Homo sapiens: one gene and its partners. The protein of the gene in region 4 purifies or fractionates together with the protein of the main gene of each other region. This does not show direct contact. Each region holds a gene or a part of one and is shown on either strand. Other genes may lie near its edges. The genes, in order: CNOT7, CNOT11, CNOT1 and RC3H1.

Evidence for each region.
Region 1: the proteins of RC3H1 (region 4) and CNOT7 purify together in Homo sapiens (affinity purification with mass spectrometry; 5 studies listed by BioGRID, with this or other methods). This does not show direct contact.
Region 2: the proteins of RC3H1 (region 4) and CNOT11 purify together in Homo sapiens (affinity purification with mass spectrometry, with the first as the bait; 4 studies listed by BioGRID). This does not show direct contact.
Region 3: the proteins of RC3H1 (region 4) and CNOT1 purify together in Homo sapiens (affinity purification with mass spectrometry; 5 studies listed by BioGRID, with this or other methods). This does not show direct contact.

The regions. Positions count from the first base shown.
Region 1 is NC_000008.11:17,242,750-17,250,883, reverse strand, and holds the start of CNOT7 (CCR4-NOT transcription complex subunit 7), read left to right. Parts: upstream 1-4,026; 5' UTR 4,027-4,209; intron 4,210-4,288; exon of another isoform or gene 4,289-4,726; intron 4,727-4,952; exon of another isoform or gene 4,953-5,027; intron 5,028-5,636; 5' UTR 5,637-5,731; coding exon 5,732-5,848; intron 5,849-7,261; exon of another isoform or gene 7,262-7,442; intron 7,443-7,698; coding exon 7,699-7,892; intron 7,893-8,134. Other genes in the region: VPS37A (vacuolar protein sorting-associated protein 37A), read right to left, coding at 3,515-3,639. UniProt on the Homo sapiens protein: Has 3'-5' poly(A) exoribonuclease activity for synthetic poly(A) RNA substrate. Its function seems to be partially redundant with that of CNOT8.
Region 2 is NC_000002.12:101,248,669-101,255,885, reverse strand, and holds the start of CNOT11 (CCR4-NOT transcription complex subunit 11), read right to left. Parts: upstream 3,001-7,217; 5' UTR 2,922-3,000; coding exon 2,408-2,921; intron 1-2,407. UniProt on the Homo sapiens protein: Component of the CCR4-NOT complex which is one of the major cellular mRNA deadenylases and is linked to various cellular processes including bulk mRNA degradation, miRNA-mediated repression, translational repression during translational initiation and general transcription regulation.
Region 3 is NC_000016.10:58,534,816-58,542,923, reverse strand, and holds part of CNOT1 (CCR4-NOT transcription complex subunit 1), read left to right. Parts: intron 1-355; coding exon 356-496; intron 497-588; coding exon 589-693; intron 694-1,303; coding exon 1,304-1,423; intron 1,424-2,964; coding exon 2,965-3,156; intron 3,157-4,009; coding exon 4,010-4,152; intron 4,153-4,657; coding exon 4,658-4,766; intron 4,767-4,863; coding exon 4,864-5,033; intron 5,034-5,703; coding exon 5,704-5,935; intron 5,936-8,108.
Region 4 is NC_000001.11:173,930,006-173,935,887, forward strand, and holds the end of RC3H1 (roquin-1), read right to left. Parts: 3' UTR 1,079-5,882; downstream 1-1,078. UniProt on the Homo sapiens protein: Post-transcriptional repressor of mRNAs containing a conserved stem loop motif, called constitutive decay element (CDE), which is often located in the 3'-UTR, as in HMGXB3, ICOS, IER3, NFKBID, NFKBIZ, PPP1R10, TNF, TNFRSF4 and in many more mRNAs.

The DNA of each region.
Region 1 (8,134 bases), on a different chromosome or scaffold from region 4:
AACACTTTGGTTAAACACTTTTCTGTGAGTGTCATCTATGACAGTTATCTCATTTGCCGTGCATATTGTTGAGACTCAGATGAAAAAATTTACATAAAATTCACCTATTTTTTTTGTAGAAGACTGAGGTAGCTGAGGAGATAAGAATTTAAGGCAACTAAAAAGTTCACAATCATTAGAGAAAGGGACAAAAAGAGACTGCTGAAGTGGAATTTTCGGAATTATAAGGGGTTAAAAATTGTAAGAGTTGGAAGGGAGATGACAGAATGGGGTAGAGAAAGGTTACTCAGTAGAGCAGAAGAAAAGATACTTTCATGGCCAAAAAAAGATATTCACCTATTGAGCTTACATTTGGAGAAGAGACATAAAACGAAACATGAGGGAGATGGACAGCATGTAACAAGATATTGATATTCCTCATGTAACAAGTTTTTGTACTGTTCATAGGAAAAAACACACTGGAAATTCTTTCAACTTTTACACACCACACCTTTAGAATAACCAATCTGTCTGTTCGCACAAAAATCTTTTAAGTGTAAGTCGTACCACTAATTTAGGTAATCAGGCAACATATTGCCAGTATTGGGGCTCAGAAAACAATACCCCAAAATATTGCACTTTGGTAGGCTGATTACTTTGAATTAAAGGAGTCTGGAGGGCCTCAGAAGTAAAGCTCTCTCTGACCACCTCCTGCCCCTCTTTCTCCATTGAAGAAGTCATAGAAACCAGAATTCCTCCTCCCCTGGGCGGTATATTACAAACTACAACCCTTCTTCCCTACAAAAAATCTAGAAAGGTCACTTTCCCTTCCGCCCTGAAGACCCTCACTCCATATGAGCCCGGGCCGGTCCACTAGAGGAGTAGAAAGTTATACAGAGAAGCCAAGAAAAATCTGAACAAACAGGCCTTGGTGGGTTTCCCCTACCTCTGTCTATTACCATTACCATACTCTTTTTGTCCAATCACATTTCTACATGGCTGTCCATTCTTCATTGAACCTAATCATAAATACAGACAGTTTTCCTTCGGTCTCTGGGGCTTCATTTCTGAAGGCTCCCATGCAGTGTAAAACTTTGATTAAATAAATCTGTTATGCTTTTCGCTTGTTAACCTGTCTTTTGTTACAGGAGGGTCAGCTGTGCCCCTTATGACTGATGAGAAAAAATATCACACCTTTTCCATCTTTACATCAGATACCATACAGACAGATTATTTTTTACCTCCCAGCTTACAAATATATGTCATTATTTAAAAGGGTGGACTAACAAGAATAGGTGAGTGGCATTTTCCAGGATTGTGCCATTCTTTGAAAACTGGAAGCATATGACCTACTTAAGTGTCTCCGGAATTATTCGAGTATAATTTGTAAATGCGAAACATCTCAATAAAACTTCAAGTGTTTTTATAAAAGAACTTAAAACAATAAAATACTTAGTTATTTGTTCATAACACTACAAAATAAATTACATTATCTAATGTAATCATGTCCAATCATACGTTCATAATTTCTGGTTCAAAAAATAATACATAAAATGAATCCTTTCTGTATCCAACTCCGCGTATTTACTGATCCTCTTAAGCCAATTCCAGAACTCTTTACATTAACAATTGCTGCTATAGAATCTCACTTTATTTGGGAGGCCAAAATTATAAATTTCACATCAATTACTTCCCTTACTTACCAGCCTTAGCAGCAAGAGACTTTGTAGTATTTAAAAAATTAAACTCCAACCTCGAAGAAAAAAATTAGTCAGCATTGAAAATATTTAACATAATACTACATACTAAGGTTTAAAAGCAATTAATTCCAAAAGTGTGGTTCTAAAAAAGTGTTTCTGCAATAGCAGGACTGGTTTGGTATATAGTCTACCAAGGTAACAACTTCTAAGGGAACAAACATGTTAAAAACGAGTCCCCTTATTTTATAAGCATACCTTGTGAGAGTAGCTCTTAAAGGTCAGTACAGAACATGATTTGGAGTAAGAGTGACTTGTAAGAACTTTGCGAACTTAATTTTCCAGAATGAAAGCCACCAATAACAGCCTGCCATTCTTTTCTGTTAAACAGCATAAAATTTCACCTTTTGAAAGTTCTGAACAAACAGAACAATTGAGACAACGAACCAAGAAACACCTAAAGTTCAGTCAGCATCAGGCCTTATTTTAGCCAAACTGATTTTGCAGTAAATTTTTCTATTAACTAGACTATTTAATTAAAAATTATTCCATTTTAAATAAGAATTATTCGATATTATCTGAGGATACATATTTTTTAACTGTATGAAAATAATATTTTTAAAAGGGCTAGGAGCCCGGCGAGGTGGCTTATTCCTGTAATCCCAGCACTTTGGGAGGCCGAAGCGGGTGGATAATCTAAGGTCAGGAGTTCGAGACCAGCCTGACCAATGTGGTGAAACCCCGTCTCTACTAAAAATACAAAATATTAGCCGCGCATGGTGGCGCGCACCTGTAATCCCAGCTACTCGGAGGGGTGTGGGGAGCTGAGGGAGGATGATTGCTTGAATCCGGGAGACGGAGGTTGCAGTGAACCGAGATCGCGCCACTGCGCTCCAGCCTGGGCAACAGGAGAGCCGTACCCCCGGCAAAAAAAAAAAAAAAAAAAGGGGTTAGGGACTTAACAATGTTGTCATCTTTATTTAAAATAGTGTGAAACTGTTAAGTAAATATACTTGCAAAATGCATAAAATATAAAGAAGCAGTTCTAATTTTTGAAAACCATTAGAGACCATAGACATTTGCAATGTAAAAGGCTGCAGCAAACCAATTTACAGTAAAAGTTGAAATAATATGAATTGTAAAAATATTTCTAAACTGACCATGATAAAATGAAAAACTCACAGGAAGACAACAGAACAATCAAGATGAACATAAAGTAATTCTTGAGCGTGGGGACAAGACTATGAAAGAAGTGAGAAATGTACATGCACTGGTCGCTGTGAGATGGGGAGAGACTGCTCCAACAGGGTAAATCTTAGAGACTCAAGAAGACTGACTACGTGATAAGTGACTCTCAGACGAGAAGCATTCACTGATGAAAACTCTGGCTTCCCTTTCCTTTGATGTTGCAACAGTTCTATTTTCCATTCTTTGTGAAACCTGGAGATTACTCTTCACAATTGTATTTTAACAATTCTGCTGACGCGGCAATCAGGTGGGCAAAGGGAAAGATCAGTGGCGAAGCCTGGGCAGCAAGGGATACTGGAAATAGACTATGAGAGAGATTGAGAGATTACAGTCAGCAGCTATGTGTCAGGAGGGATGAGGAAATCCGAGTTAGAAGCGCTGAGCAGTGGTGCGGCAGGAGGCAGGGAGGGTCCGGAGGAAAACAGTAAAAGGGGGCAGGAGTGGCAGAGCAAGCGTGTGACCCACAACCAAGGGAGGTAAACCACATGAGGAGCTGGTGGGGAGCAGACTGAGGCGCTGTGAGGGTGGTTAGGACAAGCCCGCCCTCCCACCCTACTTTTTCCTCCGGTGGAGAGGCAGCGACCAGTCACCTGGAGTGTGAGTTCCGGAGGGACTCGATCAGGCGCTGCTTCTGCTGCTGGAGGCTGGTGAGGCCACCGGGGGACCCAGCCGCGGAGGAGGAGGCGCTCTTGGTCAGGGGAAAAAGCCAGCTCATCCTCCTCGGGTCCACGGGCCGGAGGCCCTGGAAGGCTCTGGCCTGCTTCTCCCAGTGGCTCGGCCCGGCGGTTCTCCAGCGACAGAGGAGCGGGGTGGGACGTCCGTGGCCCAAGCGCTGGGGACCGCGTCTTCTCTAAGCCTGTCCTGCCTGCGCTCCCCGAGTTCTGGGGGACATGCTACGAACGGCGGGCGGCTGGAGAGGGAAACTTGCGGCCCGGAACAGGAGGTCCCACCTTCACGGCCCAGACGCCCAAACCGGCCAGCCAGGGAGCCTGGCCGCCCAGCGCTCCACCACCCGCGCCGCCGTCACTTGCGTGCCCCGCCCCCGGGGGCGCTCTCCGCCCCCTCTGCGTGTCGCGTCATCATCTAGCGCCCCCGTCAGGACGTGCGAAAAGCGACGGCGCAGCACGGTGCGGCGCAGCTCCTGCTCGCCTTTCCCTTCGCTGGGCGAGAGGTGTCTATGGGGCACCCGCTGCCGCCGCCGCTACCGCCACCGCCACCGCCACCGCCGCCGAGTGCTGTCTCTATGGCGAGGAGGAGGAGGAGGAGCGCGAGCTCAGCGACACAAGTAGATCTTGCATCCGCTGCAGCCTTACGGGGGGAGGGGCGGGTTAGGGAAGTAGAAAGGGGGCGGGGACGATGAACCTGAGAGGGTGCGCGATGGCGCCAGCTGGAGTGCGGCTGGCGGAGGAAGGAGCCTGGCGGCGGGTTGGGGGCTGGGTAACTGGGGCTGGGGGTTTGTCAAGGGGTTGGCGCGTAGTGATGACGCAAAGGCTTTGTACCTGGGGCTTCGCAGTGGGACGGAAATTGGGAGTGGAGGGCGGTGGCCTAGATCCTCACCTCTTCGTATTGTTTCACGCGGCAGTGCTTGGGAGTCAGTGTAGCTCCAGTCAGTGTTATCAGCACCTTCGCACTGGCGCTTTGCCAGGGAAGAGAGTTATCTATGGCTTGAATACCTCGGTGCCGTCCTCTCGTTTCTCTGGGAAACTGCAGTACGGAGATGCTTTCTCCAGTAATGAGAAGGCCTTTGGTGTCTCTTCGGGGCTTCTGGGACTGCAGTAGAGAGAGAGGTGGAGGAAAACAATGTTAGACTACAGGGTCTTTCCAAGTCTTTGTGTTTTTGTGCTTATGTGTGTGTGTGTGCCTATCGGGGTGGGAGAGTTATAAAGGAGGGGTGTCCTGGATCTCCTTTAGTTTCTCTACTTGGAGAATTGGAAGTTACATTTGTGACTCTTCAGAGTTTAGAAGACAGTCATAAGACCCTCTTTTTACTCTTGTTTTTTTTTTTTCCAATTTGTATGAAAAATGCAGAAGGATTTGAAATTTCCCTGCCCAAGAATCAACAGGAACTCTGTTTATAGACCAGAAATGTGACATCTATCTTTGGTAACCATGCAATATGCTCTAAGTTTTAGACGTTCTATTGTGTTCTTTTTCCGTTCTGCAACTGCGAACATTCAGATAATTTTCATGGCCGTTACTTTTTTCTCAGAGCATTTACAAACATTTTTGACCCCTCTAGTCTAGTTAGAATAAACGCCGGTAAAGTAGATCTTGTTATCAAGTCGGATTTTGGTTGTTTTATTAATGAGGAATAAAAATAAACACCATCTTTGCCATGGTAACATCTGATCTTGTCACATGTAAATAAGTAATTTTTCATTTTTTGTCTGGAAATGGATGGCTTTATAAAGTTTTATGCAGAGTAGTTGAACTCAGATAAATAATTAGTGGAAAGTTATAAAATATGATTAGTATGTATGTGTAAAAAAGCTATTTTAAAATAACTGAAATTAGGACCAGGAAATCTGTACTGTAGTCCTTTTTTTCCTATAGACTAGCTGTGTGACCTTAAGTTACTTTCTAAACTTTGATTTTTTTTTTTTATGAGTCAAGAACTTTGAATAAATAACTTCTTAGGTTCCTGCTGGATCAATTATTCTGTGATTCAGATTTGATATATCTGGTCTTCATATTGTTTTTTTATTTTGACAGGTACATAAATAAAGGATAAAATATTTTATGAAACAAATCTTCAATCAAGTATAACATTTTGATGCTTGGCATCTAGACTCCCTTGTGCCCTCACTATGCCAGCGGCAACTGTAGATCATAGCCAAAGAATTTGTGAAGTTTGGGCTTGCAACTTGGATGAAGAGATGAAGAAAATTCGTCAAGTTATCCGAAAATATAATTACGTTGCTATGGTATGCCCACAAGCAGATCTTTAAAACGCTTCATATAAAGGAGGAAAAGGAAATTTTAAAGTCTTGAATTCAACCCTTTTGGTTGATATTTTTAGGGATTAATTTCACCATGAAAAGTAAAATTTGTCACTGCCCTCCAGCCAAAATCCATCAGGAATACACCTGTGATTTGACAGGTTGGGTTTATCCCTCATTGCAGTGAGGGAAAACGCACTGGAATTCATGGGAACCATGGGCCGTTTGAATAAGAGTTAGGAAGGATTTGGGCTCGTGTCAGGTGGTCTTAGGGGAAGGTAAGGGAAGCAGAGCTTTACTGTGGATTGGATGTGTTCGGGAAGCTGGGGTAATTCTGTGATTGGGTATCTTACTAAGTCTTAAATGAGAGACTAGAATGAGGTTAAAGCTGCAGAGAAGGAACAGTCATTCATTTAGCCAGGATGGAGATACTTGGTCATTTTGTGGTTTGACATTTTTATTTTTTTGTCCTTGTTCAGACATGATTACAGAGTGGCCTTATTTGAGGTTGAACTTTTGTGAAATTGTGTTCAACAGGAGAACATTAGGGCGTGGCTATGAGTGCCAGGTCTGCTCCTAGCAACACCAAAGCCTAGCTGGTAGTACCACATGAGCTCCCAGAAGCTAGGGTGCTCTTTCTCAAACAAAAAAATCAGATGTGCCAGTGAAACGTTGTTGGTCTGCAATTTGTTTTCATAATTAACACTGGAGTTCTGTGAATATACTGTGTTACTAAGCAACTCTGCTTTTGCACGTGCTGTTTGGTCTGCCTAGATTGTCTATCCAGTTAATGATTTTTCTTCTTTACCATTATACTGTCTATATCTGTTAGCTACCCTACTGTTTTCTACATCCACTGGATTATTATTAGCTCCATAAACCAAGTGTTTTAATCCTTTCTCTCCCAACACCTAGCATAACACATATAGTATTCAATAAAGTGGCTGTTGAATTGCACTGAATTTAGAGAAATATTGATTTCTTTACTATTTCATAGTGACTTGATAGGTAGTTTTTATTCTTAGCTAGCCCTAGTTTGAATTCTAATACTAAACCGATGTATCTTTGTCTCAGTATTTTTAATAAAAATAAACAAATGCATTACTTTGGGGAGGAGCAAGTTGATTGGTTAAAATATGACTGTTTCTTTGTAGATGACATACTATTTGATAAAGGTGTACTTACCCATGATTAGAACTAAAATTGTTTTCTTAACCAATGGAAATTCATAGTGATCATTGATTTCTCAGATGATAAAGAGTGGCAACATAGAGAAGTGATAACATCCTACAAGAGTGAGTAGGTGGCATGCAATTCTTGACAGCATGCTTTCTGTGGACTATAGAGAGAATATTGTTTAAGCCAGAGAAATTAGGAAGCTAATGATGTTTTTCTTAGGGTTTTGGTGTTGAGAAAAACCTTGTGTCAGAGAAGCAATTGGAAAGTACAGGGCGTTTTCCCCTCTTTTGAACCAGTTCTTCAAGAAACTTGGTTTTAGCATTGGAATACTGTGAGCATCATTTCATGTATCCTTTGGGAGACAGGAATTTATGATTTTCCCCCCTTTCTTGGTTATAGAGTAAGTATTTGGTTAAATTTATCACATGTATCTCGTATAGTAACTTTTTGGATATATTTAAGGAAAGGTTATTAAGTTTATAGAGTTTTATGGTTCTAAAAAGTGATGTTCTTTCTAGTTAAAATATACTTTGTAATTGAATATAAATGTGTAGAATATCATCTGTAGGATTCTTTGATTTGCATCAAAAATTAAAAATGTGTGGATTGTAGTTTTGACTGTTTAGTACATAATGAATCTTAAAACTATTTTACAGGACACCGAGTTTCCAGGTGTGGTTGCAAGACCCATTGGAGAATTCAGGAGCAATGCTGACTATCAATACCAACTATTGCGGTGTAATGTAGACTTGTTAAAGATAATTCAGCTAGGACTGACATTTATGAATGAGCAAGGAGAATACCCTCCAGGAACTTCAACTTGGCAGTTTAATTTTAAATTTAATTTGACGTAAGTGGGAAATAACTGTATAACCCAGACTTTTTTTTTTTTTTCTTTAATCTTAGGAATTGATTTTCCTCAAGTATGGTGACATGCTAGGTGAATTTGGTGTAGTTATCCTGGAAATATATAAAACGTAACATTTCAAAAGCGTGGTTTTCTTTTTTACTATGGGACCAAAAAAAATACTTTGATGTTAAAGATGTTATATTTAAAATATGACTGCAGCTTTTTTTGTATTTGGAAGACTG
Region 2 (7,217 bases), on a different chromosome or scaffold from region 4:
GATTGCAGGCATGAGCTACCACACCCGGCCTTACACCCAGTTTTTTAATAATACCTGGCAGAGCTACTCCTGCCCTCCCTCCTGCATCCCTAATCAATATCCAGCAAAAAATATCACTCCTGAGAATTTCTCCAGCTCCACAGGTGGTCGTTCCTTCCTCTTAACTACCCAGCATTACACAATCGCAGCCCTGCCTCTGTTCAGAGTCATCTGAAAAGCATTCTGAAGACATACCCACTAAATGTCTTACCCTAAACATACAATATCAGCAGCTCTGGGAGTGGAGTGTAGGCACTGATATTTTCTCTTCTATGTTATCTACACACCATCCCTACCTACTTTAATAATGGTATAATAGTGGGTAACACTCACAGGTACTTTTTTTTTTTTTGAGACGGAGTCCCGCTCTTTAGCCCAGGCCGGATTGCAGTGGCACAATCTTGGCTCACTGCAAGCTCCGCCTCCCAGGTTCACGCCATTCTCCTGCCTCAGCCTCCCAAGTAGCTGGGACTACAGGCGCCCGCCACCGCGCCCGGCTAATTTTTTGTATTTTTAGTAGAGACGGGGTTTCACCGTGTTAGCCAAGATGGTCTCGATCTCCTGACCTTGTGATCCGCCCGCCTCGGCCTCCCAAAGTGCTGGGATTACAGGCGTGAGCCACCGCGCCCAGCCCACTCACAGGTACTTTTATTCTTTGTAACAACTCTACCAGCTGGGAATTGTTACTATTTGCATTTTACAGATGAGGAATCTGAGGCACAAAATGGTTAAATATAATCCATCCATGGATTCCTTCTCTGGTGACTGCCATCCCACCTATGGCAAATCTGTGTGTATAATGCGGTCTACGGACTAGGTGTGGGTTTAGATTCACTGTACATGAGAATGACATTATATAAGTCACGGTTTCTTTGCCTCACTTGTTCTTCAGAATTCAAAGGGCCCTCTGATCTAAATCCCAGTGTCCCAATCCTCTAATACAAGCACCCTAGGGTGGTGGTTGTCTGTGTGTGTGTGTGTGTTTAGAAGCTGTCACCCTAACTCACTGCAGCCTCAAACTCCTAGGCTCAAGTGATCCTCCTGCCTCAAACTCCTGAGCAGCTGGGGCTACAGGTGTTAGCCACCCCATGCCCAGCAAATTTTTTATTGCTTTGTAAAGACAGGATCTTACTATGTTGCCCAGGATGGTTTCAAACTCCTGGCCTCAAGCAATTCCCACCCCCCAACCTCCACCACTTCGGCCTCCAAAAGTGCTGGGATTATAGGCGTGAGCCACCTAGCCAGGCCTAGGTGGTGAGTTTTGACCACAAACCTGTGTTACATTCACTTTCTGGGCAGTCACAAGCTTCTTAGAAGCAGGTTAAGTACCTGTACCCTAAAGGCATCTCAGGCCAATACAAAGGGTTGCCCTTCTTAGATAAGGGCACTACAGGACACCTATCAGAAGATCCTGATGGGATGCCCGGCAGGAACACTAACTAGAAACGCGGCCCTCCTGTACCATAAAAACAAACTCCTGGTGTTACTTCAAAATCTACTGCCTAGCCTTGACTCACTGTATAGCAGGCCCTACCTATACTGGTTAAGGAATGTAAGATCAAGCTGTTTCCTATCTCTGTGTGCTTCCTCCACTACACTGGTTCCTAAATCCTTCAGGTCCCGTTGTCAACATGCCATTTTTCTTGTTTTCTGACTGCAAGTCTTCTCGCAAAGCAAATCCACATAAAGCATCACCTGCTTGAGCTTAAAAACAAAAAAAAATGCAGCCTCGCATCTAACCTACTAGTTTGATCTCACCAATGCCACACAATAGTAAATACATTTTACATAATGTATACCACGTATGCACTTTACATAATGTCCAGTAAGTCATGTGTTTCCAAACGCGAGATCATCAATTTGAGACTTTCTATCCTCTGCCCCCATCCCTAACAGGCTAAGAAAGGCGGCTGCAAAGTCTTTAAGGTGTTTCATGTGTATTTCCGCCCACCAACTTCTTCAGCTTCTTAATACTGACTTCCACGTACTCCTTTGAGACTAAAAACCGGGGACAGATCCAGTCTTATCATTGGTTTTAACTTCACACACCACAGACGGGTTTTCGAAGAACGAACCGTATTTGAGACACTAAACATGTCAAGACCTACACTGAGCTGTATGATGTGATGGGGTGTATAGAGAAATCATTTTCGGTGTCACGAACTTGCAATTAAGCTACCACCTCTCCATTCTTTAGAGTTAAGGCGGGGAGGAGTGAGGGGCGTGGGAACGCAGAGAGAGGCGGAAAAAGAGGATGATCATTTCACAGGGATAGTTAATTTCCCTTTCAGGTGAGTTCCCAGCAGCGCAGGTGGAAAGCTGCGGAATCTAACGCTATCCACACGGCACAGCTGGCTTCAGGAGGTACCTGAGAGCGGAGGGCGGTCGGGTTCCTGGCCGCCGCGGGCGGGCGGCGCGGGGTTGAGCAGGTGCGCGAAGCTGGCGGCGAAGGGGTTGGCGGCCAGCGGCTCGGTGCGGTACATCTCCCAGAGCAGGTAGAGCGCCGTGAGGCGCTGCGCCGCGCTAGGCAGCAGGTCGGGCTGCTGGAGCAGCATGACGAGCACCGAGCCCAGGCGGAAGTGGTCGGCCTTGCTGAAGTAGTGGTGGAAGGCGGTGGACAGGCCCTCGAAGGTGCTGCCGCCGCCCGCCTCCTCCGATATGATGCTCAGCAGGCTCGAGAGCTCCTTCGGGGTCAAGCTCATCCTGCCCGCGGGGCCCCCCGGGCCTCCGCTCCCGGACCCGGGGCCGCTTGCTCCGCCTCTGCCGCCGCCGGAGCCCCCGAAGCCGCTCCTGGACGCCGACCCTGCCGCTTCCCGGGACCCTCTTTGCTCCGCGGCGGTGAGAAGCCGGCCAGACGCCGCGCTCGCCCCTCCGCCGGGCATCAACCTCGCTCCCCTTCCCCTCTTCCCGGCCCGAGGGGCCCTGGCGCCGGCTCGCTCCGTCCCCGCGGCCGTAAAGCGCGCTGTTACACGACAGCGTCGCAAACAAAACACGTCGGGGAAACCAGACCGCCGCGGAGAGGGACAGCGCCCAGCGAAAGCGAGGCTGATGGAGCGAAGCCAGGAAGAGGATGCGGAGACGCGGGGTAGGCGGGGCGAATTGGCAGGAAGCGGGGGCGGGGCCCGGGAAGGGAGGGGAGGGGCGGGGCGAGGTCGGGCTGGTGGCGTTCAGGGTTAGGTCTGCCGAGGTCCCGCGGCAGGAGAGCCCGGGGACTGCATGCGTCTGCGCAGCTGCGAGGTTAAGCCGCCCTTTGGCGGTCCCCAGGACGGTTCCTGGTGCCAGACGGTCCCAGTAAGTGCTGTCTACGTTATTATTTGGAAGAATGCACCTCAGATGTTAACTATTTTCTTAATATAACATCCGTAAGTATTCGTCGTAAAAAGTATTGTAAATGCAGGCCGGGCGTGGTGGCGCGTGCCTGTAATCCCAGCACTTTGAGAGTCCTAGGCGGGAGGGTCGCTTGAGCCCGGGAGTCCCAGGCTGCAGTGAGCTGTGATCACCACTGCATTGCAGCCCGGGCGCTCTGTCTCAGAAACATTTTTTTTAATTTAGTAAATGCAAATATACCACACATTTCACATAACCACGGTTAATTTCTAGTCTTACACTCATTGCAGAAATGGAATCATACTGCACTATGAGCTTTTTTGTACATGGTTTTTTCTCTTAACATGATTTCGAGAACATGTCTCCAGTTAATATTCATTTACAAAATTGTTTGCTGTGCCACGTTTTACTTAGATTGCCCTAGGGCACTTATCCTGGGCACTTAGCTGTGCATTAGAAACCCACGGGGAGACGTTACAAATACCTAGTTCCACCCCCAGAGATGCTGATTGAGATATTAATAAACCCCACCTCTTCAGGTGAGTCTGAGGTGTAGTCTGGGCTGAGAACCACCAGGTGGCATTTCCCAGACTTGCCCGGTCCCTAAACCTACAGAAACGTACGCGTATTTCGCCAGTGATTACCACCAGCGATTCTAATTATCTAGTTAAGAGCCACCTCAATTCTTTTTTAAAACATATTTTTATTTTATTTTATGTGTTTTTGGGGAGAAAGATATTTTATGTAAAAAAAATTTTTTTCATCTTTTTAAAACTTGTATTTCAGTAGTTTTGGGGGTACAGGTGGTTTTTGGTTACATGGATAAGTTTTTAGTGGTGATTTCTGAGACTTTGGTGCACCCGTCACCAGAGCAGTGTACGCTGTACCTGTCAGGCCTCTGAGCCCAAGCCTGCACATATACATCCACATGGCCTGAAGTAACTGAAGAATCACAAAAGAAGTGCAAATGGCTGGTTCCTGCCTTAACTGATGACATTACCTTGTGAAATCCCTTCTCCTGGCTCAGAAGCTCCCCCGCTGAGCACCTTATGACCCCCGCCCCGGCCTGCCAGAGAACAACCCCCTTTGACTGTAATTTTCCACTACCCACCCAAATCCTATAAGATGGCCCCACCCCTCTCTCACTTCCCTGACTCTTTTCAGACTCAGCCCGCCTGCACCCAGGTGATTAAAAAGCTTTATTGCTCACACAGAGCCTGTTTGGTGGTCTCCACACGGACGCGCGTGACAGTACCCAAAATATAGTCTTTTATCCCTCAGCCCTGTCCCACGTATACCCCCTCCCACCCCAGAGTCCTCAAAGTCCATTATATCATTCTTATGTCTTTGCATCCTCATAACTTAGCTCCCACTTAGAAGTGTAATATTTGGTTTGCTACCTCAATTCTTATGAAAAATTTAAGGAAGAGAAATTGCTGGGTCAACAGGTGTGATATCTACTGAATTTTAAAGGCTTCTTCAATTTACTGCTAAATTGCACTTCAGAAAGATCCTGCCAATTAACGTTCCTAACAGCAGCAGATATAATGTGGTAACTTGGGGAACTGATTCAAATTAGCTCAAAAGTACTCTCATAAATTTTTTATTATAGGGCCTGGGCAAGGTGGCTTATGCCTGTAATCCCAGCACTTTAGGAGACCGAGGCAGGTGGATCACTTGAGGCCAGGAGTTTGAGACCAGCCTGGCCGTGGTGAAACCCCGAATCTACTAAAAATATAAAAATTGGCCGAGCATGGCGGCTCATGCCTGTAATCCCAGCTACTTGGGAGGATGAGGCAGAAGAATGGCTTGAACCTGGGAGGTGGAGGTTGCAGTGAGCCGAGATCTCACCACTGCACTCCAGCCTGGGCGACAGAGTGAGACTGTCTCAAAAAAAAATTTTTGTTATTATAATAAACTGTATTTTGTGCAAGCCATTTTACATTGGGTGGTCTATGGGTCTATTTGTTATTGTAATTTTCCTGCAGTTCTAATACTATTTAATAGTAGTAATTATACCAATTGCCAGTTATTAATGTAGTAATACTAATGCTGTGTGGGTTTTTTCCAAGATGTTTCAAAAATATTTGAACATTTTATTTTATCTTAAAAAAAAAATAAAAAACATGGGAAGCCGAGGCGGGTGGATCATCGAGGTCGGGAGTTCAAGACCAGCCTAACCAACATGGAGAAAACCCGTCTGTACTAAAAATACAAAAAAATTAGCCAGGCGTGGTGGTGGGCACCTGTAATCACAGGTAATTGGGAGGCTGAGACAGGAGAATCATTTAAACCCTGGAGGCAGAGGTTGCAGTGAGCCGAGATCGTGCTGCTGCACTCCAGCCTGGGTGATAGAGACTCTGTCTCAAAAAGAAAACCGGTTAGGACTAGGTGTGCCATCTGCATAGAGTGTGAATCTCTGGCAGCCCCCACCCCAGTCTTTTATTATGCAGGCAGGTAGCTATTCTTGTGACTGATCTCTTTCCTACTGTGTACATGCTAACAAAAAAGGGAAGGTGGAGCCCCCATGGTGGACACGCATGGCCCCAGGTTGCTGTGTCTGTGTGGCTGCTGGCATCACCCTGTGCAAGCTTCCAGCTTCCTTATTTATGTCTGCAGCTCGATCTTTCAGGCTGCTCTTTGTTAGAAAATAAGTGATTTCTTGGGCTGCTTTTTGCTTCTTTTTTCTTTTCCCTTCATGACCATTACCACGTAGGATATAAGCCTCTGGCTTGCCTCCTATATAGCCCCTCATTTCCTTCCCCATATTTGGCAACCAGACCAGCATCCAGGACAACATAAACTATGCCACTGGTTGTTAGAAGGCTTGGGACATTTGTCTCTTTGCCAGCCTTAGCTTAACCCAGGAGACAAAGATTATTATCTCTCCTGCATAGGATCTGCAATCAGAACTATTGAACTTCTCCATCTGGACCACCACTCACACCTATAGGAAAAGGGTAATATAATAGATCATTGCCTAAATAACAGGGAATCCTGTTCATATGATGGAAAATGGGGACAAAAGGCTTTGGTACCTAAAACATTATTCCTACCTTGGCATAGAAACTCACTGACACCTACCTTAACGCTATTATGCTTATTTGCTGTTTTTAGAGAATTTATTAGGACAATTTCAAGCTCAAAATATGCTAACTGGTGCCTTGTTAGCCACACAGAATTGTACCTAAAAACTTTCTAGACCAACTCACTATAAAATTAAACTTTCTTTAGGTGTCCACGTCGCCCCTAAGTCATGCCAGAAGCAGCCCTGATTAACATAACCCCTACCCCAATAATCCCCAGTAAAAACTTATGTTTTCTTTATCTTTTCTTATAACTTTATATTTTATAAGTAAAAAGACAGGAATGTCAGGCCTCTGAGCCAAAGCTCATCCGTTGTAACCCCTGTGACCTGCACGTCCAGATGGCCTGCAGGAGCCAAGAAGTCTGGAGCAGCCAAAAAACCACAAAAGAAGTGAAACAGCCAGTTCCTGCCTTAACTAATTAATCCACCTTATGGCATTCTACCATTATGACTTGCTCCTGCCCTGCCCCAACTAATCAATTGACCTCGTGACATTCTTCTTCTGGACAATGAGTTTTATGATCTCCCCACCATGCACCTTGTGACCCCCTCCTCTGCTGACGATAGATAACCACCTTTAACTGTAACTTTCCACTGCCTACCCAAGCCCTATAAAGCTGCCCTTTCCTATCTCCCTTCGCTGACTCTCTTTTTGGACTCATCCCACTTGCACCCAAGTGAATAAACAGCCTTGTTGCTCACACAAAGCCTGTTTAGGTGGTTTATATGGACACACGTGACACTAAGCAATTCCAGAAGTGTG
Region 3 (8,108 bases), on a different chromosome or scaffold from region 4:
AGAAGTGGCTTCACCATGTTGGCTAGGCTGGTCTCAAACTCCTGGCCTCAAGTGATCTACCTGCCTTGGCCTCCCAAAGTGCTGGGATTAGAGGTGTGAGCCACCGCGTCTGGCCTGCTTTACTGATTTTAAGGCATGTTCACAATAAACTGATAAGGTGTCTAGGATATTTTTGTCTTAAAAGTGAGGAAGCTGTTAAGACTGTTTCAAGATCACAGCTTGTTCATAAGTAGAGTCAGAACTTAAAATGCATTTGCCAAATGCACTGCATTTTCTACTATCCTGTCTGTCCACATCAACTTTCAAGTCTTTTTCCTTCTATTCCCCCCACCCCCCCACCCACCTCCATTAATAGACTGCTTCCCCACAACAAAGAGAAATGATGGATCAGGCAGCTGCTCAATTAGCTCAGGACAATTGTGAGTTGGCTTGCTGTTTTATTCAGAAGACTGCAGTAGAAAAAGCAGGCCCTGAGATGGACAAGAGATTAGCAACTGTAAGTGTTTAGAATTTGCCTTTTAAGATTTTCTTTTTTAATTTAGGGAAGTGCCTTATAACAAGAACCTCAGTGACTTTTTTTGTTTGCAGGAATTTGAGCTGAGAAAACATGCTAGGCAAGAAGGACGCAGATACTGTGATCCTGTTGTTTTAACATATCAAGCTGAACGGATGCCAGAGCAAATCAGGCTGAAAGTGAGAATTGGGGCTCTGTCTTTCCCCGTCCCATCTTTGTTTTATTTTTAATGTTGTTGTTGATTGAACTCCTTACTGGAATTAGGACAGCAGGGTTAAATATTGTTTATGAGAAAACATCTTAACTTGATAGCATTTCACTGAATGGCTGCCTGTGGAGGAGGTATGGAAATAGCTCTAAATTCCCTTGCTCCTCCAGAGTTGTTGAAGTGTTATTACTCTAAGGAGTTCATGTGCCTGCTAGTTTTCATGTTTCCCAACTTGGGCTTCTCACATTAATGGTTGCTTATTGTTCCCAGTGAGACAGTGAGAAATCTGATAATATTTACCAGCTTCAAGGGAGAATTGCACTGGCATCGTCCCATGTGAGGCATTTTCCAAGAGAAACTCTCAGTTAATTTATAAATGAGGTGACTCTTAGCAGGATTCAGGGAAATGAGAAGCCCTCTTCTGAACTGCATTTGTGTGTGCGTGCATGCTTAATCATGCTGTTATATGTTGTAATGACTCTTGTGTCCCTGAGCTTACCCACATGCAGACTTTCCACTTTCAAAACAGTTTATTTTGATTATTGAGTGAATTCTGTCAAAATAGGTTTTCTTCTTTCAAGGTTGGTGGTGTGGACCCAAAGCAGTTGGCTGTTTACGAAGAGTTTGCACGCAATGTTCCTGGCTTCTTACCTACAAATGACTTAAGTCAGCCCACGGGATTTTTAGCCCAGCCCATGAAGGTAAATGTGTTTTAGATTAAATTGAGTGTTTTGCCAATTAATTTAAATGTTTTTGACATTTAATATATGTTTTTGACTTGCTTCCTGGGAGAATAATTTACAGGGGAAAAAACACCTATAGTTTTTGAGTTGTAGGTATTCTTTGTGTCCAATTAAGTATGACATACAGGGGATTAAAGAAAAATTGACATGGGTGTGGGTGATTTAACTTTAATGTTCGGCCTAATTAGGGGAATTCTCATGGTAACATAATAACTTTCGGTTTTTTATTTTTAAATTTTATTATTTATTTTTTTGAGACAGGGTCTTTCTCTGTCACCCAGGCTGGAGTGCAGTGGCGCGATCTCAGCTCATTGCAACCTCCACCTCCCAGACTCAAGCGATCCTCCCACCTCAGCCTCCTGAGGAGCTAGGACTACAGGCGTGTGCCACCATGCTCAGCTAATTTTTGTATTTTTTGTAAAGATGGGGTTTTGCCATGTTGCCTAGACTAGACTCAAACTGCTGACCTCAAGTGATCGCCTACCTTGGCCTCCCAAAGTGCTGGGATTACAGGCCTGAGCCATTGTGCCCAGCCTTCCCATTTTTTAAATAAAAGAATTTTCTAAAATTTTCAAAGGTGTTTACAGAAAACTTGGAAATATAGGGAAAAATATTTTCCCCCGAACCGGTCGATAGTAAGTTGCTGACCTGATACCCCCATCGCTCCTGAATCCTTTGGTTTGTATTTCTTACAAAACCTTTTTCCTTTGGTTTGTATTTCTTAAAAAACCCTTTTCCTGTGTGACCATGGTACAACCATTAAGGTCAGAAATGAATACTAATAACCTTACTCCATCTAATTCATAGACCTCACTCGAGTTTCACCATGTATCCCAATAATGTATAGTAAAAGACCTGTTTTAGAATCACACATTTCTTCAGTTGTCATATTTTTAAAGTCTCCCTCAGTTCTAGCTGGTGTAGGTAACTCAGTTTTTCCTCATCTTTCATGACCATAACACTTCTGAATATTATAGGCTAATTATTTTCTAAATGACTTGATTTGTTTGTCCAGTGTATTCTCATGACTAGGTTCAGGTAATGTGTTTTTAAAAATAGGAATAGCTCAGAAGTAATGCTGTATTCTTACTCTATCCTATCAGGCTTTGACAGTTGGACTGAGTACTGTATTTTTCATGGTTTGAAACACTTACTTTCTTAGGATATAGAGGGCTTAGTAGATGGTACAAGTGGTGCTGCCCTCAGTCTGTCTCATTGTTACTAATGCTCTCTTTTATCACTTGATTATGCTGCTGTCTGCCAGGTTTTCCTCTCTCAAATGAAACACCTCTTCCCTTATGCCTGCCTTGTACTGTGCCACTTGATGGTATTAATTCTGAATAGCTCAGGAAGAAGGAAAAGAAGAGGCCCTCCATGTTTGAATGTAAAAATAAGAAAAAGGGAGTAAACATACTAGTAGACCTCTATTTGATACATGTGTCAATAAAAAACCTTAACATTCTTTTGTCTCTTGTTGGTTGTTTCCTTCTGTAAAACAGCAAGCTTGGGCAACAGATGATGTAGCTCAGATTTATGATAAGTGTATTACAGAACTGGAGCAACATCTACATGCCATCCCACCAACTTTGGCCATGAACCCTCAAGCTCAGGCTCTTCGAAGTCTCTTGGAGGTTGTAGTTTTATCTCGAAACTCTCGGGATGCCATAGCTGCTCTTGGATTGCTCCAAAAGGTTGGTTCTTAAGCTATTACTTTTAGAAAATGCTAGGTGTGTAAACATTTATTGACCTGCACCACCATCTACATATTTATGCAGTTATGCTTAAGATTTCATAATATAAATCAAGTTCTGTAAGTAGGTGATTTTTTTTTTTTCCAACGTAGAATGTAGTCATGGCAGTTTTGAATGGTAAACTTGGAAATCTTCATTTTTTTTCTTAAAGATATTCTGGAAATGTGATTTGAAGAAACTTTAAAAGGTAGCCCTTTAGAGGGGTGTGTGTGTCTGTGTGTGTGTGTGTGTGTGTGTGTGTAAGAGACAGGGTCTCTCTCTGTCAGGCTTGAGTGCAGTGATGTGATCATGGGCTTAAGTGAACCTCCCACATCACCTTCTCGAGTAGCTGGTATTACAGGTGCTCACTGCCAAGCCAAGCTAATTTTTAATTTTTTTGTAGAGACAGGTCTTGCTTTGTTGTCCAGGTCGTTCTCAATCTCCTGGGCTCAAGTGGCCCTCCCTCCTGAGCCTCCCAAAGCGCTAGGATTATAGACATGAGCCACTGAGCCCAGCTGCCCTTTAGATTTTGAGGGACAAGTTGATCCAATAATTTGGATCAGGGTAGGTAGGGAGCCCTGGATTTTAACTACAGCAGAGCCTTTTATGACAATGAAGAGCACAGAATGAACTTAAATCAGATAGAATTTAGAGTGTGTGTGATAGGCAACTGAAAGGGATGTTTGGAGAGTGGAAAGGACAGGGAGGCTTTGGAAGGTATTTGGTACTTGGCATTGAGATTTGGTTTCTGGCTGTGATAGTTGGGCCAAGCACTGTATTTTTCATGGTTTTGAACGCTTTCTTTCTCCCATAGGCTGTAGAGGGCTTACTAGATGCCACAAGTGGTGCTGATGCTGACCTTCTGCTGCGCTACAGGGAATGCCACCTCTTGGTCCTAAAAGCTCTGCAGGATGGCCGGGCATATGGGTCTCCATGGTGCAACAAACAGATCACAAGGTCAGTAGCCATCTTCGAAAAGTAGTGAGTATTGGACTGCGACTGCCTTTTGACATAGATAGTACTGTTTATGTCCAGGGGTTTCCCTTTTTTCTAGTAGGTAGGTCGGACACTTAGACTTCCTACTTCTGAGAGGTGAGAATTGTTAAGTAGTTGTTTTCCATCTGGTCTCTACCTTCTCCCCATGTTGGATATAGAAAACCAGTACCTTGTTTTGGGGAATAAATTGTAGGTCATTGTTTTAAAAGGTTACAGTGATTTCTCAGAAGTGGTATTCGTGTATAAGTATTTTAATGTCTTAAATGGAATACTCTGTATCCTAGGATTTGAAAGGAAAGCTTGGGCTATCTGTTCTATTTCATTACTGGCTGTTTTTAAATTTGGACACTGATTTGGAGTTGAATCTCAAGGCATTCTTAGTTTGGAGCAAATTTCCATTGAGTAAAATGGGCCCTTTTACAGTATGGTTAAGCCTATATGAGTAAAGATATTGAACTTTTTCTAGGTGCCTAATTGAATGTCGAGATGAATATAAATATAATGTGGAGGCTGTGGAGCTGCTAATTCGCAATCATTTGGTTAATATGCAGCAGTATGATCTTCACCTAGCGCAGGTATGGAAGGAATTTACTTGCACGGACAAAAGGACTCAGGGAAGTACGTTTGCTCTTAAGTGTTTTCCCTCTCACATTATGTTTTCTGTGTTGCCAGTCAATGGAGAATGGCTTAAACTACATGGCTGTGGCATTTGCTATGCAGTTAGTAAAAATCCTGCTGGTGGATGAAAGGAGTGTTGCTCATGTTACTGAGGCAGATCTGTTCCACACCATTGAAACCCTCATGAGGATTAATGCTCATTCCAGAGGCAATGCTCCAGAAGGGTGAGGATGAAATGCTTTGAGATCCCTGTGCATTTAGTAGTCTTCTAATATCTTTAGGAATGAATATGCAGACTTACTAACATTACTTGTTATAACTGCTTTACCAACCACATATGGGTGGGTAGCTTTGGTAAGGGCTAATATTGTCACTTGAAGTATGAAAGCCTAATTGACTGCCAAGTCTTCTTGGCACAGAGCAGTACATACGGTACCAGACTTAGTGTCAGAGTCCTATGTTTAAGCCCTGGTCATGCCACTTAAAAGCTTTCTGATTTTAGGCAAATTGACTTATCCTCCTTAAACCTATTCTTTATAGAAAATGGAAATAATTTCTCAAAGAACTATTGGAAATCAAGAGAAGTAACGTAAAGAAAGCATGGTACATAGTAGGCAAACAGTGAATATTTGTCGACTCTGAACATCAGTTTCATTTAAATGAACACGTTTTTTGGGCAAGAAGTAGCTTAACTGAGGGCAGTTGTTTGTGTGTTGTATGCTCATGAGCAAGCGGATAAGAGACTAAGTATAGTTTTGTTTCAGTGTGGAAGTGGTAAAGCGAAGTGGTAAACCACTCTGGTGGTTGCTGTTAAATAAGCAAACTATACATGCGTATGTCTGTAAAATCACAACTACGAGGAGACTGATTTTCACCCTTTATTTATTGTGCTAGATTGCCCCAGCTGATGGAAGTAGTGCGATCCAACTATGAAGCAATGATTGATCGTGCTCATGGAGGCCCAAACTTTATGATGCATTCTGGGATCTCTCAAGCCTCAGAGTATGATGACCCTCCAGGCCTGAGGGAGAAGGCAGAGTATCTTCTGAGGGAATGGGTGAATCTCTACCATTCAGCAGCAGCTGGCCGCGACAGTACCAAAGCTTTCTCTGCATTTGTTGGACAGGTAGAGCTTTTGGAAAGAAAGGTGCTTTTTATTCAACATAAGTAGGGTGTGATGCCTCCAATATTAAAGCTCAGTATTGCGTACATGTGGTCAGACAGTTACCTCCATACTCATGCAAACCCAAACTGTCATCATTATATGGTTAAATTACAGCCTGTTTTCTCATGGTTGATCACTAAGCAGTAAAGGCAACATTCCCTCCCACCGTTGGTTCTGTATATTCCATTTCAGTTGTCACAGCTACAAAGTACAATGGGTCAGATAATGAATAATAAAACTACCAAATGTATTTTTACTAGCACTGATGGGACTGTGGGCTAATAAATATGTAAAATTCTCACAGTAGCCCACATTAAAAAAAAATGACAAAACAAAAATGCTTATTTAAATGGTAGAGTGTTTTATTGTATTTTCTAATTTAAATATCTACCTAAACGTAGTGACATGTTCCTTTGGAAAATACTTCCCAGTATTTTCATTAGATTTGATGCAAGTTGGACTTTGACTTAAAAGGGTTAGGAACAAAGCACCTAACTGAAAATCAAGTTTGGCAGGAATGTTTGTGAATAGGATGAACAGGAAAAATGTCGGAACCGAGCCATAGTACCATTTAGCATTCGTTTTTTATTATCACTGGTTGCTTTCAGCGACTGTGAGGGAATCAGACACAATAAGTCCATGTGTCCTAATTTATAATATAACTTGGCAAGAGTGGTACTTTTCCTGAATTGACCTTGGAATTTCCTTTATTAGAACTGTTGTAATTTTTTTTCAGGGTGAGTTGTCTGCTTATTTCTGCAGATTGACCATTATATTTCTTCAAACTGAACCCAAAACTTTTAGGTATATTGCTAAAGAAAGATTACAAATTAGGTCTCTTTTCAAATTAATGACAATTGAATGTGGAAGAACTGACTTCAATTCTAGAAGTTATTTGAAACTAGGTTTACTTTTCAGCCAGGTGCTGTGGCTCACGCCTGTAATCCCAGCACTTTGGGAGGCCGAGGCAGGCGGATCACGAGGTCAGGATATCGAGACCATCCTGGCTAACACAGTGAAACCCTGTCTCTACTAAAAATACAAAAAAATTAGCCGGGTGTGGTGGCGGGTGCCTGTAGTCCCAGCTACTCGGGAGGCTGAGGCAGAAGAATGGCGTGAACCCAGGAGATGAAGCTTACAGTGAGCCGAGATTGCACCACTGCACTCCAGCCTGGGCGACAGAGCGAGGCTCCGTCTCAAAAAAAATTAAAAAAAAAAAAGAAATTAGGTTTACTTTTCAAAATGAATGTTACTCAGTAAATCATACCGAGTATATTTCTCCCCTAAAAGAATCCAGGGAATTACAAAGCATACCCTACTGAAAAGCTATTACTGCATGTTTTATAGTCTGATTTATAATTTGAATGGAAGAAATTGGAATCCATTGGTCTTTCTGATCATTGCTATTTCGTGGGTATGGATGTGGCACCTGTCTCAGCCCTTCCTGCTGGCTTATTTGCTCTCATTTCATCTTTCTCTTGAAAAAGATAGTGTATTATACTTTTCTGTGCTGTTTTGTATCCTTTTGAAAATTCTTTCCTTCTTGCGCTCCTCCTTGACCATAGTACTCAGTCCTAATATTCCTCACTCTCTGTTAGTTTTACAGATACCAGTGTAGACAAAAAGTCCCTTTGCCATGCTGGCATTCTGTCCCAGCAGGGTACAGTATTATCGTAGTCCAACCAGTTCAGTTGTCTTTACTGCTTATCAGGAACAGTTAAGTTGTTTCAAAAATTTCAAGATAACCTTGAAGTTTTTTTTTTCGGAACTTGGTTTCTGTGTTTAGTAAGTAGTGAACTGTTCTTCCTCTGTAGCCTTAATGCATATTTTACTGTTGTCTTTTTTTGTTTGTTTGTTTAAAGGGTTGAGGGGAACTAGCCAAATAACATTCCCACTGTGCTTCACTTCTAGTTCATATGTCATATAGTTTCTAATTTTTCCTTTCTTTTAAATAAACTTGTGTTTCCCACATTATTTTAACTTAATGTAACATTTTATTACATTAAAATACCTAGATCAGATTTGTATTTCCATTTGGTACTTACCTGTTGTACAAATTATTGATTTTTCTGGGGGTAGCTTGTTGGAGTTTTAAAATCTTTGTTATTGGTTAATTCAGTTTGAGGAAATTATC
Region 4 (5,882 bases):
TATTGTGTTATCCATCTTTATTAAAAAAATGGATTTTTTACATAATCATGTTTCACAATGAACGAAAATGCCATTCCTTGGTATCATCTAATGCCCAATACTTAATCAAATTTTCCTGTATACAAAAGTCTTTTGTGTATTTGGTTTGCTAAAATCACCTATGCTGCATTTGATTTTTGTACTTCTTACATTTCTTTTAATCTAGAATAATAGAGTCTCATTCCATTGCCCAGGCTGGTGTAGTGGTGCGATCAAGCATCATAGCTCATTGTAGCTTTGATCTCCTGGACTTTAGCAATCCTCCCGCCTCAGCCTCCTGAGTAGCTGGGACTACACACACGAGCCACCACACCCAACCTCCTCCCTTTTCTTCTTCATGCCATTGAGGTGTTGACTAACGTATGGTCTCTATTAGACAAACTTACTTATATCCACTAACTTCGAGGAATGACTAATGGGTGGGGATTTCAGGACAATCAGAAGTCAGCAAGAATGGGAAGACAAGGCTGGGCATAGTGGCTCATGCCTGTAATCCCAGCACTTTGGGAGGCTGAGGCGGGCAGATCGCTTGACATCAGGAGTTTGAGACCAGCCTGGCCAACATGGTGAAACCCCATCTCTACTAAAAATGTAAAAATTAGCTGGGCATGGTGGCGCAGGCCTATATTCTCAGCTACTTGGGAGGCTGAGGCAAGAGAATTGCTTGAACTGGGGAGGCAGAGGCTGCAGTGAGCTGAGATTGTGCCCCTGCACTCCAGCCTGGACAACAGAGCAAGACACCATCTCAAAAAAAAAAAAAAAAAATGGAAAGACAAAAAAACATTTTGCATCAGGAAGTTACCATGACAAGTCCTTTTCACTTAAGCATAAAGATGGTCCTAATTTTCAGAAGCGCCATAAAAACCGAGACACTGGATGTTAGCCATTGAATCTCATTGAATTGATGCTAGTATCTCAGAACCACTACCCTCACTCCTAATGTGCAATCACTGTGTGACAAATGAAGGAATATGACTGTAGCTTATTTAAGATTGGACTAATTCCTGTGATGTCCACACAAAATTGGCTACTCCAAGTATGTGTTTGCTCATGCAGATTAGCCATTTCTTTATTTTTCACCTAAAAAAGCCCCCTCCATTAAAAACGTGTAAGAAAGTAATCTCAAGATTAGAATAAGATGGCACACACTCATTTACAAAATACACACGTTCCTCATTAATTTATCATTTAATATAAATGCTGACAGAAAGCAGATAAAGACCTTGTAGACATTTTCATATATTTACAATCCAAAAGGTGAATCACCTCCTTCTACTTGTTAAAATAAATCATTTTATCTGCAACTCATGGGAGCCTTAAACACTAATTAGGAGCAACATGAGGCTGAGTCAGTTTCCAAGGTAATAAAGGAAATAGCATTTTAACAAAATGGGCATCTTTGATATAAACATGCACACAAATAATACAAAATTGAGAAAGATGGCCCTAGTACTCTCAAAAATCGGCAACAAGTGGGAACATGTACTTATTTAGACCCAGAGTTCTGCTGCCCTAAACATCTTCCTACTACTATTTCTTTTTTTCCACCACACTTGTTTTGAAAGCTGCTTAAAAATCAGAAATATTAAACAGATTAAAAACAAGAGAAAAACGGTCTATTTCAAATAGGGTTCTTTTTCCTACTCCAAAAGAACTCTCAGGAGATAAGGTCTTCAAATAAGACTTCACGGTTTGCCAGATCCTAAGGAATTATTCACAGCCTGTGAAATTCCAATCCATTTGTCTTCACCATTCCAACCTATTTGTCTTCACTTCTCTTTTTAAAGTTGGAAACACTTGGAAAAAGTAAAATTTCACAAAATTCAGCAATTAAAAAATCAGCTGTCACTTTAAGGCTCAATTTTTTTTTTTCCTGAACAGGGGGGTGGAGGCAGGCAAGAAAGAATAGGGAGCTGTGGCAATAAAAAAACAAAAAAATGCAAGAAAACTTTAAAAAATGGTAAGTCTACCACTGATTTATAAGAGCAGGAGTATAAATTCTATCCAAAAGTGTAAGTGATTTCACTTACAACCTGACTCAAATCTCATGGGCTCCTTTATTAACCAAGATTATTTTTGTCTTGTTAAATATACCTCTGCAGGGCACAATCACTTACAATCAATACGATTGGTAAATTACACAAGCTCTATCCCAAGCAAATATGCACCAATGTTAAAAAGTTATTTTTTTAAAAAAAACAAAATAAAACAAAATAAAATCCACCCAAAAAGGTGATAATGACTGCAGAATGTCTCGGGGAGACTGATATGAGCCTAAAGACCAAATTACCATAGTCAGAGAAAAAGGGCAGAAGGGGTAACAAGGGGAAGACACCACAAACACGAAGAGGAATCTCAAAACTGGAAAATGTTTAAGTGGGTGAAAGGTTTTGTTCATTACCTTAATTCACTTTTTCCATTGTTCTTGTACCAAAAAGTCATAGATTAATCATAAAGAAAGATAATGAGACCTGTGGACTAATTAATTTTTTTAAAAAAGTTCCTTTTATTCCCAGGAAGCAGGGAAGAGGAAAAAGGATGAACAGGGGAGAAGTGTGAAAATTTAGGCCAACGATCCATCTGGAAAAAATAACTCTCAAGACAGTGTCTTAGTTGAATAGAGGATGTAAAAACGATAAGCAAAAGCTAAATGCCTTTAAGTCAGAGAATTATTTTATGGGGTAGTTCAGATATTATAAGAATGACAGCCAATCAATGGAGAAAGATTACACAAATAAATGGTGATTAAAAAAAGGCAAATAATAATAATAATAATAATAGAGCAACCAATTATTCACCCAATAGTTTGTTTCCAATCTTTTTCTTGACTCTTTCATACACTCACTGGGGTGGGGGACCACCTGACAGTTTCCAGTTATAAGATGACTCTGAGTGTACAACCTAAAATGGATGCCAAAGACTTGTGAGCTCTGTCTGCTTAGAGTTAGAACAGAAACAAAAACAAATCTGAAACAGTAAGACCTCAATACAAGAAAACAAGTCACCTTATCTAGTATAAAATAAACATTAGGATAACAAACTCCACAGGATTTTATTTTTCTAAATACACATTTTTGGACACGATATTATGTTGAGGTTTAAGTTCTTCCCCCTTATTGTGCCTTATTTTCTTGTGAAAATAAAGTTCGTTCTCTAGGGATGTTTCAGGGATAAAGTTTAGGAGAAATTCAGTGTTTGGCTGAAAATCCAGAGGCTCTGAAAACAAGGATTCCAGTGGTGAGGTAAGTCCCTTTATTACAATAAGATTTCAAAGGGCTCTTTACCCACTTTGTTCAGTGCAGTATTGAAAACATACCTATTAGGAATAGATTTATTATTAAAAGGTGTTACTTATTCCTGGTGGTGATAGTCTTACTCTTTATTAACACTATAGCTAGTATTACTTATCAATTATAATCTATTACTTGTGGAAAGATCTTTAGTGAACACAGAAATAAAATCTTAAAAATTCAAATCTTAAGATTTACTTGCTACAATTAATAGTACCTTTTGACAAAAACAGCTTTCTTCTTGAAGTGGCTCAGAAAAGCTAAATTGAGAAAATGTTTAATAGTAACTATAATCAACCTACAACTCCCAATAAGTCATTTCAGCAGGAAAATTTCATAAACCTGAGCTGAAGCAACAAATAAATATAAAAATCATAGCTGTCCAAGGTAGAAAGGTATGAATGTGGATCAGCAAAATGGGCACTCAGGTAAAATGATGACAGTAGTAGACTGCTTGCTTGTTTAGGTGCTAATGATGAAAGTAAAATTTGCTTTAGTTTAGTAGGTCTAATTTTTCTTAAAAGGATAGGCAGATTTTTCAGGGGAAGAGATCACCTTGCAACACTGTAACCATATCATCAGTTAAAAATTTAACACACTTAGACTCTTATTAGGGGGAAAAAATCTAAGTAAACACTGCAGTTAATTTCCAGGTAGGTTATTAATCTCTCCTAAAAAGTAACTGGGCCATTCCTTTCAATGACATATAAATCGTTACAGGTGCTTTTTACAGATAGATTTTACAAATAAAACCTTTACTCAATTATTTAAAACGAGCAAAAAGAGAGTAGAAAAATGGTGAGACTGCTACCCACCACCATTTGTATGTAAGTGACAGCAACTGAATACTTCTTTACTGAGACGAATCCTTTTTTTTAGTGAAAGTATTTTGTCTTGAATTTTAACAATCTGTACATGTACTGACTATAGTTAGTTATTTCTCACCAGTCACATACTCAAGAATTCTTTTACTCAGACCCATGACTTGACCACAGTGATAGCAGAAGCTGGGGTGGGCACAAATGCTTATACACAATATTACAAAAGACGACATTCACTGGCTTAGAGAAACTGATGAATTTTCATTACTTTTACATTTTATAAGGCTAGCTAACTTTAACAGTTAACTTTAGATAAATCTACTTACACAGTACAATCAACTCACAAATACTAAAAGGTTTCATGATCAAAATGGCTACTACTTCCCCCAAAACCAAAACAGAGTAAAGCACAAGTCTTTGGCTCTCCTTTAAAGAAAACAGCAGGTTACCATTCTTAACCAGACCTTTGTTTGCCTACCAGTAGGGCAAATACCACATTTGTGCATCACTGAGTAATAACACCATTAGAAAAGGCAACTTCACAGAAGTTATTGGCTAAGCGAATTCATTTGAATGCTCTGTTTTGAGGCAGCAAACTGTCACTGTTGCAGATTGGGGAGGGCAGTGGGTAAGTCAAGGGGAAATTACAGGGTGGAAAAAGGTCAAGAAAAAAAAAGACATATATGGAAAAATGTAAACTTTGAGCTCCATCCCTGAAGAACTCTGGAAAGTCTGATGGAGTTATATACTCAAAGTAGCAAATGAGAATCATACCAATATTCTTTTAGGCAAAAGAAATACATGGGAAAGAATAGAAGGGAAGGGAAATAAGATGGGAGAAAGGAATCACCAACATTAATGCTGTACCAAACAATTTTTTAAATACATTCTGAGTAGTTGAATATTTGTAGTTGGCATTAGGAATAATGTCTTATCAATATCTAGAATACTACTACTAGAAATCTAGCTAACTCTTCTTTTAATTAGAAAAGTAATAAGGAATGGATCTTTGGTCACTTCAGCCTCTGTACGTTATCTAAGACAGGACAGTTACTGGACTTATCTTATGACAAAATTATATATAAATTAGGCAAAAGAGCTACATATAAACCAGAAATGGAATCTAGATGTCTTATTCTCAGTTCTTCTACCCTTTCCTAGCGACTCCTTGAAAAAAGAGTAAGTCAAAATACTTTTATATTTCTCGCTATAAATAAAATTCCCTCACCTATGTATGAGTGAACACAATGCTTATTACTCCTACCTTAACCCATTCAAAATTGTTCATCTCAGATATCTGATTTTTGCTTTGGAATTTAGTGAAATACAAATAAAGTAATATTTAGAAGAAACTAATATTTTAGTAAGTAGAAAACATAAAAACTGTATTTCCTATCTGGTTTCATCTTTGTCTCTAAAAAAAAAAATTAAAAAGCCAGAAGCAATTAATACCTTTTCAATTTTGATTTTAAAAAAGTAGTTACAGAGTCAAGCAGTTATGCCCAAATATGCCATTTGTCCTTACAGGCTCATGATATCACAGAGAAAAGGAAAAGGAAAAAAAGCAAAAAACAAAAAACAAATTTTGGGGGTGTTAGTGAATTCCTAAAACCGCTGATGAGCACTAGGAAAGCTGCAAGAATTTCCATTAGGTAAGGTGGAATGACCAATTTAAAATACATTATAGGCACAATGGGACAATATACCATCCTTCTGCCTTTCTGCCCAACCA